Linked DNA regions of Homo sapiens: region 2 is linked to region 1. The links come from fine-mapping of genetic effects on plasma protein levels. Region 1 holds a variant in brackets. A gene starts in the other region. All regions are shown on their forward strands.

Region 1 (5,377 bases):
AAAAGGTGTTAAAAGCATTTAGAGAAAAAAAGTGAGATTTTTCCAAATGCATTTTATTTGGGTTGTAATGATCTTTAGGTAATAACAATGACAGAATTATTGATTTGAAAGGGAGAAAACAATTATTTCCATTAATTAAATGTCTTGTGCCTGGAGAATCTGAACTTCCAAGTCTATAATATTTATCTTTCAGATTATTGATCTGGCACTGATTTTAGTTCTAGAAGTCAGGGGGTGTGGAACCCGTTTCAAGTCCCACCACACAATAAGATTAAGAAAAATCCCTTCTCATCTCCTAACTAGCTCTGGAAGCAAAGAAGAAAATCTTTGCTGATGCTCCTAGTGAAAAATCTGTATAGATTGTGTATGATTTAAGGTTAACATTTAAAGGGGAAGAAAGGAATGGAGAGAGAAAGGAAGGAACGAAAAGGGAAATGAAGGAAAGAAAAAAGGAAAACAAAAAGGAGGAAGAGGAGAAAAGGAAAGACGAAACATAAAAAATTCAACCGGAAATAAGGGGTTTATTTCTGAAGTTCCTTCTGAAGCACCTTCTTTGTGTTCTTTTCCTTTGACTTATCTTTAAAAATTAAATTAAAAATCTGCAGAATTGTTTATTCTGCAGTTCATGAAGCTTCTCCTTGGTTTTGATTGAATCGACGTCCAACAAGGTTGTCCGGAGCCCTGTACTCAAACAGCGTCCATCCCTGTTCGCGCAGAGCTGCACACAGCAGTCCTGGATTTAAAGACAATCACCCTTTGCAGATTCACTCTCACCAGGCTTAATAACTTCCACCCCAAATTGCCCCATCCCTCCTCGGTCCCTCCTGGCATTTCTTTTCTGTCCCAGGCGCAGAGATCCTCTTCTGGGCGTCTGTTCCGGCTATGAGAAGCTCTCCGCACCCTGAAAGGGAGTAGAAAAACAGAGGGGATGGGAAAGGGGGAACAGGGGAACAGATGAGTATTCATTTCATGATAAAATTCAGAATCCCTGCGCCTTAAATGGTGCCCATTTTCTAAGTCTGGTTAATATTGTTCTTGTTGCTGATGATGTTTTCCTTTTTAAAAACTATATGAATCATCTTATTAAGAAAAATTATACAAAAAAAAGAAGAAACTCCACATGCACTAAAATATTTTTCACTATCTCTTTGAAGACATTCTGCTTAAACCTTTTCAAAGATTCGGGTGGCCCTTTCTTGACTCTCCATGATTAAAACCACTTACAAGTCATACACAACAGATGCAAATATAAAATGTCCTTGGCCTCTGCAAAAAAGGCTCAAAATTAACCTTGTCTGAACGTGTGCGTACGTTGCTTCCAACATCTGAAAAAAACTTGATAAAATGGAGACTCCAGCCAAGAGGAATGGTGCATGGAATCCGTTGAAAATGCATACAAACAACACCTAAAATAACAAGCAGCACAAACTGAGGTGTATTTAAGTTTCCAAAGGTTTTAGGTAAAATGACCAGAAAATATTAGAAATGGTCATCAACGGTGGCTAGCTTTTTTGTTCTATGGTGACAGAGATAAAGTTAAAAAAAAAAAAGTTGTGTAGCCATCAACACAGAGATAGTCCTTAAAATCCCCCATATCCAGCCTTTCAAAATACTCTCTTCCGGAACATACATGAATAGGAGGGAGCTTTTGTGTTTAAAAATCTTGGTAAGTGTCCCCCTTTAAAATCTACATAGAAAATAGGGGACTGATGGCCCCTGGTTTCTCATTATGAATTGCAAAGACTTCAGTTAGTGGCTACAATGATGTGTCATTTTCGATATAGAAGTTATAAAATGTATATATTATATTAATCACCCTGAACAACTCTTTGTTAAATGCACATTTGGAGTCTGCAGACTGTGTGACCCAGAGGTGCTTATATAACTATATGTGGGTGTCTGGGTGTAAATACGGGTTTATGATTTTTATAGTATATATGTCTGTGGGTTGCATCTAACTCCTGTGTGTGCAATAATGTTTTTTCTCTTTGCTGAGGCTTACTTGTCCAGCCTATTGTTTGAGACAACAGATATAAGTTGCGATGGGAGAGGAGCGTCGGATTTGGTGTGTATCCCCCATTTCCAATTATAGATGGATCATTACAGACAGCGGAGTCCTGAGAAGCCAGACATCTGCTCCTCACATGAATGCACTCACCTCCTAGAGACCAGGCTGCCATCATGCTCTGGAAGCTTGTGGAGAATGTCAAGTACGAAGATATCTATGAGGTGAGTCGACACCCCCAGATGCACCTTAGAGCTTTGCAGATAGAGAATTTGAGCTTCTTGATACCCCAAATGATATATATTTTTAAGCTATTTACTCGTAGATTTCCGGTCGGTTTTCTCAGCTTTTTTTAACTTTTAGAAAAGCTGGCTAGGGAAGACTTCGCTGCTCTGAAAAGGGACTTTAAGGCTGAAATCTGACAACTTTAATTTAGGAATGTTTTTATTTATTTTATTTTTCTTTCCCTTTTCCTCGCCTCCCCCCACCCCACCCCACCCTTTTAAGCTCTGATGGGGAATGTGGTGCTACTGAATGTGGGCACGCTCTCAGAGAAAATCGAGATTCTGATAAAGTCAGGGGCTTTTCTCGTTTTAAGTGTGGAAGAGAATTGGGTTTTCAAGCCTCATTTGTAACAGACTCGGGCTTTTAATTTTTATTTTCAATAAAATTTCTGAAATTGATAACAAATGGTTCCAAGTAGAGGACAGAGAATTAGCGGGAAAGAAGTAGATGGCTGGAGATATGGATGGATAGAGCAAAATAGAAGTCGTAGCAGTTTATTAGTTTCTGTTTTCTTGTGTTTTGCTTCCTTGAGGGTCACTGCGTCCGAACAGAAATCGCAGCCGCCTCCTGTGTGGGCATCTTTCACGGAAATTTCTGCCCACGTTCAATGCGTACGGGTCTCTAGCACTGAGGCTAGCTCAACTCTTCGGGGCAGGAGAAGTTGCGCCCAGCCAGGAGGACGCCAGCCGCCTCCGGGGCCCGGACCGCGCTC[G/T]CCAAAGCCCTTTTCCGGCTCGGGCGAGGGCTGACGCGGCCAGACGGCTCCGCTACTCGCGGGCGAGGCGGACTAGGCGGACGAGGCGGCCGAGGCGGGCGAGGTGGGAGAGGCGGGCGAGGTGGGAGAGGCGGCCGAGGCGGGCGAGGCGCGGGGCGCGCGGCGGGCCAGGCTGGGGACCGGGAAGCCCGCGGAGCCTCGCTTTTAAGCGGAATGGTCTGGGACAGCCCCAGGTGGTTGCCAGGGGAAGGGAGGAAGGGAAGGTTCTGCTGAGACGTCGAGGTTGGAAATAAAAACTTCGGAAAGGCGAAGCGGATTTAGAAAAGGAGGGAAGTCGAGGCGGGCGAAGCGGGCCATGGAGATTGCTAAGAGGAAAAGTTGGAGAGAAAAGGAAGGAAGAGAAGCAGACTCCCGGGTGGCGGGCGCGGGCCGCTAGGTCAGACGAAAGGTGGAGGGATGCAGAGGCTCCCCAAAGAGCCGAGAAAGACACGCGACCCCTCCGGATCGGGACAGCTCCTGAAAGCCCGGCGCAGAGCCGCCTCGAAGATCCTAAGAGTGGGCGACTCACAGGCGCGGCCGGCAAGCTCCTGGGGGACTCGGGCTCGGACGAGCGCCCACAGGCAGCGCCTGGCGCCCACACCTCCTGCCCCCCCCCGAATCCTAATGTTGGGGTGTGTGTATGTGTGGAGGTATGTAGGAGAGAGGAGGAGGAGATAAGAGAGGAGAGGGAGAAAAGCAGGAGAGAGCGCGAGAGAGCAGAGAGGAGAGAGATTGGTCTTGTTGCTGAATGATGCTTGGGGTTTTCCTTTTCTCTTTGTGGTTGTGTATCGACTGTAACGAAGAGCCGCGCCTACGCGCCTGGTGGGGATTGTTTCGGTTCGGCCTCCTTTTCTTTCCTTAACAGGCGGGATAATGGTAAAGTCCAAGGCGCTAGAACTGTCCTAAAGAATATTAGCGCCCAAAGTGGGCATGACATTAGCAAGCACGGGGCCATGGTGAAAACAGCTCAAGCTATATGCATGCAGAGGCATTTCAGTGGGTTCTAAAAAGTAACCAGGGTAACATTCGTTCTTTACAGAAAGTAAAGTAGCTAAATGGAAAAGGAAGGAGGGAGAGAAGAAAGGAGGGAGGGAGAGAGGAAGAGGGAGGGGTGGAGTGGAAGGGAGGGAAGAGAGAAGAGAAAAGAGGGGAGGGAGAGAGAGAAAGAGAAATAAACAGGGAGAGAGAGGGAATATTACAGGTGGTCCTATCTGCCTAAATTTTCTGCTCAAAAAACAGAATCCGCAGCTCGGTGGAAGGAGCCTATTTAAGTCTGGACTAAGGTTGAACTTTAACAGAAATGGCAGTCAGGCCAGTTGAACGGGTTCCTGAAACATCCAAAAAGGTTTTCTGTTGCCCCTGGCTTTGCCTGGAAAGGATAAGTTTAGTGTATTTGAAGATTGATGGCGTATGTTTTAAATTGAGGTAAAAATCGCAAACTATGTGAGCACTAAACAGGAAAAGGCTGCACAGGAATGAAAAGCCTCCATCTCGCTTCTGTCCTTTAACAAATGAGCATAATCTTCCACATTTAGCAAAAGTCTGCAAAAGTCACTGTAAATAACCAGGCCCACCAATTTGCCTTTCTCTCGCCTCCAAATGATGAAGCAACCCTTTTTATTTTGTTTTTGTAATCCTCACACAAAGCACCCAAGGCGACCAAGTCCTCCGGATTAGGGAAGTCTCTCTCCAGGTAGGAGGACACCTCCATTCTATACAACCTCCCAGCACTGTTCTCCCTCACTGCCTTATCCAAAGGAGCAGGGGCTGCTTTACTCGTGTCCCCGGCACAGTTAATTGAAGTTCTGCCTCTTTCCTGCTAAACTTTTTCCCCAGTCTGCCTTTGCCAGCCCCCTCGTCTGATTACATCTAGTAATTCTCCACTGAATGAACGTCATTTACAATAGTAGGGGAGCTCTGCGCTCGCTGCTGCTTCACGCTCCATTTGTCCTCTATTCTCCCTTTAAAGTACTCGTGTAATATTAATAGTCATGAATATCAATTATTATGAGGCGGTGTAGGCAAGCGGAGGGAGGAAGGGGCGGCCGAGCAGTCTGAGCCCAGCTTCGGGTGAAAGAGGACTGCATCTGGAGCCCCGAAGAACGGCAGAAGAAAAGAGGCCAAAAAGACAGCAAAGAGACAGATGAATAGTTCTGTCTGTGTGTGACAGGCATCGCCAATCTTGTTGGGGTGGGGGGCGGGTGTAATTTTTTTTTTTTTTTTTTGATGGCTTGTCCTGGAAACACATCAAGCTCAGCTCCTGTGTCCAGCTCGCTTCTCTGCTGGACTCCTTGATTTTTTTTTTAATCATTGTTTGATTTTGAGCAGTAACCAGG
Region 2 (5,377 bases), not on the chromosome of region 1:
GGACCAGCAGAGAAGCCTGATACAGTACCAATCATTTCAGAGGTTAAAAGAGAGAAGCATTTCTGCATGTATAATGCTATATTTCACCTGAGGAGGCCTCGGTCCTATCCCTCATGGATTTATAACTTGGCTTTTATAAGAAGTCAGTTTAGAAACTGGAAAACCTATTTTTTATTGAAAGCGCTACAATATTTTAGGATGCTGTGTCAGTCAGAGTCCAGCCAAAAAGTTAAAACCATACCAAGTGACCACACAGAAAGAATTCAACATGTAGGGTAATTTACAAAGTGCTAGAAATGCAGTTAAAGCAACCAAGCAGAAGATGAATCAACTCTGAGATTAGAAAATGCAGAAAGTTGTTACTCCTTCTAGGTCAGGAAGGACAGTGATGAGAAGGTGGGGTCTAGGAGCTGGGGCCATGCAGTAAAAGCTGGAACAATGTTGGCCTGTGTGGCACAGGGGGAACCACAGATAAAGGACCTTTCCAAAAGGAGATGAGCCTTGGAGAGGGTGCAGCCACTACCCATGATAGCTCCTGAATTGGAGAGAGGGAGACATATCCCTTCTCCTTTTCTCTCTCTCTCCACTCTTTCACCTGTGCCTTCCCCTGGCTTAACTTAATCAGATGCAGTTGGCAAGGAAGCCTGGAAGCAAGGAAGCCTGGAAACCACATTTTAAAAAGTCAACTTTCTATAATACAGAGCCAGGAATGAAAGTGAAGAGAAAGGATTTAAAAGCAAGCAAACAAATTTGAGGGCAGCACTGGTTTAGTATTCCAAAAGAGACCATAATAAAAAACTAAAGGGCGTCATTGTGGCAGGCTGGATCTCCACAAGCAACCAAGTCTCCATAAGCCCTTTGCTGTAATGATGAATGTGTAAGTTAAACATTGAAGAACTAGAGAAACTGGTGCCTGAGTAGGAGACCTGGAATGCAGAAACAAACCCGTTAAGACCCTACCTGGGCTTTCTCATCCTCAAACCTGATTGAGTGATAAAAGCATTCATGCACATACAAACCATACCAGGACCCATGTAAAATTAAGAAACTTTCCAGCCCACAGACCACTAGTTAAAGATTAGATTTAGGCTAAGTAGAAATACTCCTGCATATAGGCATAGAGCTTGAAATTCATTTATATATACTAAAGGAAAAACTCATAACTTTTAGTTGGTCTGGTAAATTACTCCGACCTTCTCCCTGTGGCTGGTTACAAAAATAAACTCGCTTCTTTCCCAGTTCACCTGTATCTCATCATTGGACCACGAGAGCAAGCAGCTGGACCCTGTTCCTCCGGCAACGGCATCAATCTTACCACCAACCTTGGCTCTTTGAGGGGCTTGGTATATTAATATCACTGGCATCAGTGGGAATATGTGGGAGAAATGGAAGCAGTACTGGTAGAGAAAGAAGGAGAAGTGGCAGGATTGAGGTGCATGGCAGGCATTCATGGTGTCTTTCATGTAGTTTATAAAGTAGTTTATAAAGTAGCAGAAAGATAAAGAAATGACAGTTACAACATGGTAACATAAAAATTAGTAAAATGTGACATAAATTAGATATTAATTTTGGTTTGGCATAGCAGAATGCTCTGTCTGCATAATTTTATTAGATCTTCATTACAATACCACACCCTCAGATGAGGACAAATAAAGCCCCAACCTCTGGCCTTACATCTTAAGGTGTGTTTTCTCAAAATTTTCTGGGTTCCACTTTGGTGGTGGGAATGGCTGGAGCCAGCAGTACCACGTGGCCGGGGAGCCCTGAGCTGGTCCTGTGCCCATATGGACTCCGCTTTCTATTTCACCCCTTCATGGTTCTTTCTTACCCTCTTCCTTGCATGTCGGGCCCACTCGATGCCCCAAAGAACTCCAGGACTTCTGCTCACAAATGAAGTTGTCCTGAGGTCCTGTGGCTGAACCCTGGATCCAGAAAGACAGCCTTGGAAACAAATTACTACTCCTGTAGCCAGTACCTTACAATTACGTATTTTTGAATGATTTTATCGGATTTGATTGCCAAAGAATCTTGCAAAAACAATTTTTTCCCCAAGCTACACACCTTATGGTTGGTTGTGTTATTTATGTTCCCATTTTAGATGAGAGGACCAATATCCTAGATTAAAAATGTCAAATCCAAGATTACACAAACAGTGAAAATTGAATCCCAGGTTTTTCAAAAGACACTCTGATTTTAGATCTTAAGCCTATTATTCTATCCAAAGGCTCAGAGAAGACATGCTCTGAACATACTCAAAGTAACTGACACTGGAAAAGGTAACAGAGGTGTGAAAATCTTACCATAGTAGATGTGTGAGTGGGCTGGGGGCAGGTGAATTCCAGAGAAATGTGGCACTAAATGTCATGAAGCTGACTCTGTATTATACCAGAGTGGCCTCCAGATTGCTTTCACAACTGGGTAGTTCATCAGCTAATGTGATTCTCCAAACTTTAAATGATTAGAAAACTGGGGAAAAATGTAGAAAACCAGAGGAAAACACTCCTTCTAATCCAAATATAAATTCTTCACTTCTTTTCAATGTTCTTCCAGGAGAAGGATTCGTTGGGCTCTTTGCCTTCTGCTTTTATTTCTGTGCAAGGGTTTATGCAAGAGGTACTTGAGAATGCTGTACTGTAGAGCTTTGTTTCTCATGGGAACACACGGGGAAGTGGAAAACCCTCCAAATTGTTTGGTGAGAAAACATAACATTTATCCCTTTCTTTGGTGGGGTGAGTCAAGTGGTAGGGACTAGAATTCAGGTCCTCAATGGGCATATAAATATGTGTGTGCAAAAGCAGCCATCACACTTTGTATGGCAAGTGGAACCACTGGCTTGGTGGATTTTGCTAGATTTTTCTGATTTTTAAACTCCTGAAAAATATCCCAGATAACTGTCATGAAGCTGGTAACTATCTTCCTGCTGGTGACCATCAGCCTTTGTAGTTACTCTGGTAAGTAACTGGAATACATCTGGAATATGTGACATTTCTTTACTTTTCTGTTAATAAGAGCACAACTAGTAAGCCTTGCCTCACTGACAGTGGAATATGGTGGTAGGAATTGTATTTTTTTTTATTTTACTTTTAACTGACACATAATAATTGCACATATTTGCAGGGTTGGAAGAAGTTTTGGAATCACAGAAAATGGTGATGTTGGAAAGTATTTCAGATCCCCACCATCTAAGCTCTAGCCCAATATAAGTATTCTAATACATCCTACATAGGAAGTTAGCCAACTTCCACGGAGGGTCAACAAAGCACATTTCACTGCTGGATATTGGTCACCATTCGTTTTTCTTATTTTCCTCAATTTTGAGTTAAAATTTGACTTTATAATTTCTTTTGTGCTTTTGAACTATATGGAGTCATTCTTGCTATCATCTCCAGTTATCCAATTTGCTAGCTTGGTTCTCCTGAGATAGCTACATTCATCTGTTTATCCACTCAATGGATATTTATTGAATGGCTACAATTTGTTGGGCACTGGATAGGCATTGGAAGATTTAGACATGAAGCAGTCATAAATATTGTTCTTAAGGTGCTACTCTGGTAGGATAGATAGGGCTTCTGCCTAAGTTACTATAATTCTAGACTACTGTAAACGTACTGTGAGATATCCAGATAGAACTCTTTTAGTGTATTGGTGGGTGATTAGTTTAATTTTCAGGTAAGGGTATAGAAGCTGGCTTCTTGGAGGAGAATGGGAACTGATTTATTTTTTTGGAAGGAATCATTGTAACTATCAGGAAGACAGTGTGGGCACATGGGAAAAAGAGATTTCATGATAGCCACTGCTCATTGAGAGAACAGAAGGCTTTGAAGATCTTCTCCCAGGAAGCTGTAAACACATACAGAGAAGATATTTACCAAAATGTCTGAAATAAGAAGTATGGAGATTAATAATGAAAAATTGATTGCCGCCCACACCTACAATGGCAACTTTGGCTTTTGATGTTTATTGAATTTCTGAAGGAATTTGTAACTTCACCAGTTTTGGATATTTCACTGTTCTCTAATGTCCAGGGACAGGTATCTATGGGCAAAGTGGCAGCAGAAAGGAGGTGGGGAAAATAAATACCGCCCCCTCTGGGTGAGAATTTTGGAGGGACAATAGGTGATTGAAAATTTAAAAAAATATATACAGGCTCCATTTTAATAATTTGAATGGGGAAATAATAGGTTTCCAAAGGAAAATAAACTATGGCAGGTCTTAGCCAGTAGGAGGATGTGTGTTCTTACGTGTGTGCTCACATGCATGTGTGCATTTATATATCTGCACATGTTTTTGTAAAAAATACATCGTACATATTTTCCTCAATCTCTACTTTTTCCCACCATTCATCTTCTACGGGAAAGTTATCTTCCTAAAGCCAAAGATATAAAACGTAATTTTCCTATGTAAAAGCCTTGATAGCGCCCCACTGCCCTCAGGAAAAAAAAATCCAAACTCCTTTGTGTGACATCCAACACTTTAAAAAATCTGACCTCACTCAACTTTTGCAGCCTCACTCCCTTTATCTTCCATCCTTTGGTCATAGCCTATTGGAAATCTGCACTCCAGCCTTCTGGGCAGAAGGCTCACCATCCTGTGTATGCACTTTTATCCTAATGGTTCCGTGCCTTTATTGGTCATGTTTCTAAAATGCTTCTCCTCTTCTTTACCTTATGATCCTGACATTTGCCTCAAGACATAGCTCTAACAGCACTTCTGGAAAATTCCTGCAGCACTCTTTCATGTTAGAATTAGTCATCCCTTTCTTGTGTTTCCATGGAGCTTTGTCCATAATGTTAGCATAGCACATGCTACACTGTGGCATACACAGATCTTCTATCACCAACTGGACTGTGTGAAGTCTCTGAATGGGCATCCTTGTCTTATTTGTCTATGTATCTGCACAGACTAGATAGAGTTGGTGCTCAATTATGTTTGTAGCGTTGAGTTGAATTGGTTGGGAGCAGTTTCTTGGGCTGTGGTTGGGTCCATTCCTGTCTTTATGTGGAGATTCACTATAGCATCTCTCCTTTAGCCTCAAAGCTGTGAGCTGTGGAGACAGTCACATACAAAATACCATCGCCTTCAGACAATCACAATGATCTGTTGAATGCTTACGCTGCCAGGGTCAGTTGTAGGCATGGGTGCATTAGCGAAAAAACACACATTCCTTGTTCTCATGGAGCCTCCATTCTAATGAGAAAATAAAGACAATAAAAACAGCAAATGAAGAGTTGCTTTTTTTAGGTAATGGTAAGAAAAAATAAATGACGGAGAGTGACTATGGCCATTGCAGGCTTCTCCGAGGAGGTAATATTTGAAGAGAGACCAAATAATGTGAGAAAGAAAGGTAAGTAGCTAGCTAAGGAAAAAAAGTTCTAGG

Alleles and levels. Alleles are on the strand shown, and positions count from the first base shown. The strength of an association depends on the size of the effect and on how common the allele is.
With allele G in place of T in region 1, the plasma level of the protein whose gene starts at base 2,804 in region 2 is higher (weak association).

What was found. PIP is the posterior inclusion probability: the model's chance that the variant is causal. The UK Biobank Pharma Proteomics Project read protein levels with antibody pairs (Olink). The fine-mapping took linkage between variants from a reference panel, not from the people measured, so its PIPs are less certain.
Region 2: it holds the start of SCGB3A2, and the variant in region 1 is fine-mapped to the plasma level of the SCGB3A2 protein (UK Biobank, PIP 0.90).

Annotation. Positions count from the first base shown.
Region 1 is chr6:50,816,744-50,822,120 of GRCh38, forward strand. TFAP2B (transcription factor AP-2 beta) reads left to right here and starts at 2,128. Exons shown (of 7, transcript NM_003221.4): 1 at 2,128-2,229. The coding sequence starts at 2,149. LOC124901490 (a long non-coding RNA gene) reads right to left here and starts at 2,283. Exons shown (of 2, transcript XR_007059923.1): 1 at 2,159-2,283; 2 at 502-901. The variant G/T (reference allele first, on the strand shown) is at 3,003.
Region 2 is chr5:147,875,908-147,881,284 of GRCh38, forward strand. SCGB3A2 (secretoglobin family 3A member 2) reads left to right here and starts at 2,804. Exons shown (of 3, transcript NM_054023.5): 1 at 2,804-2,951. The coding sequence starts at 2,897.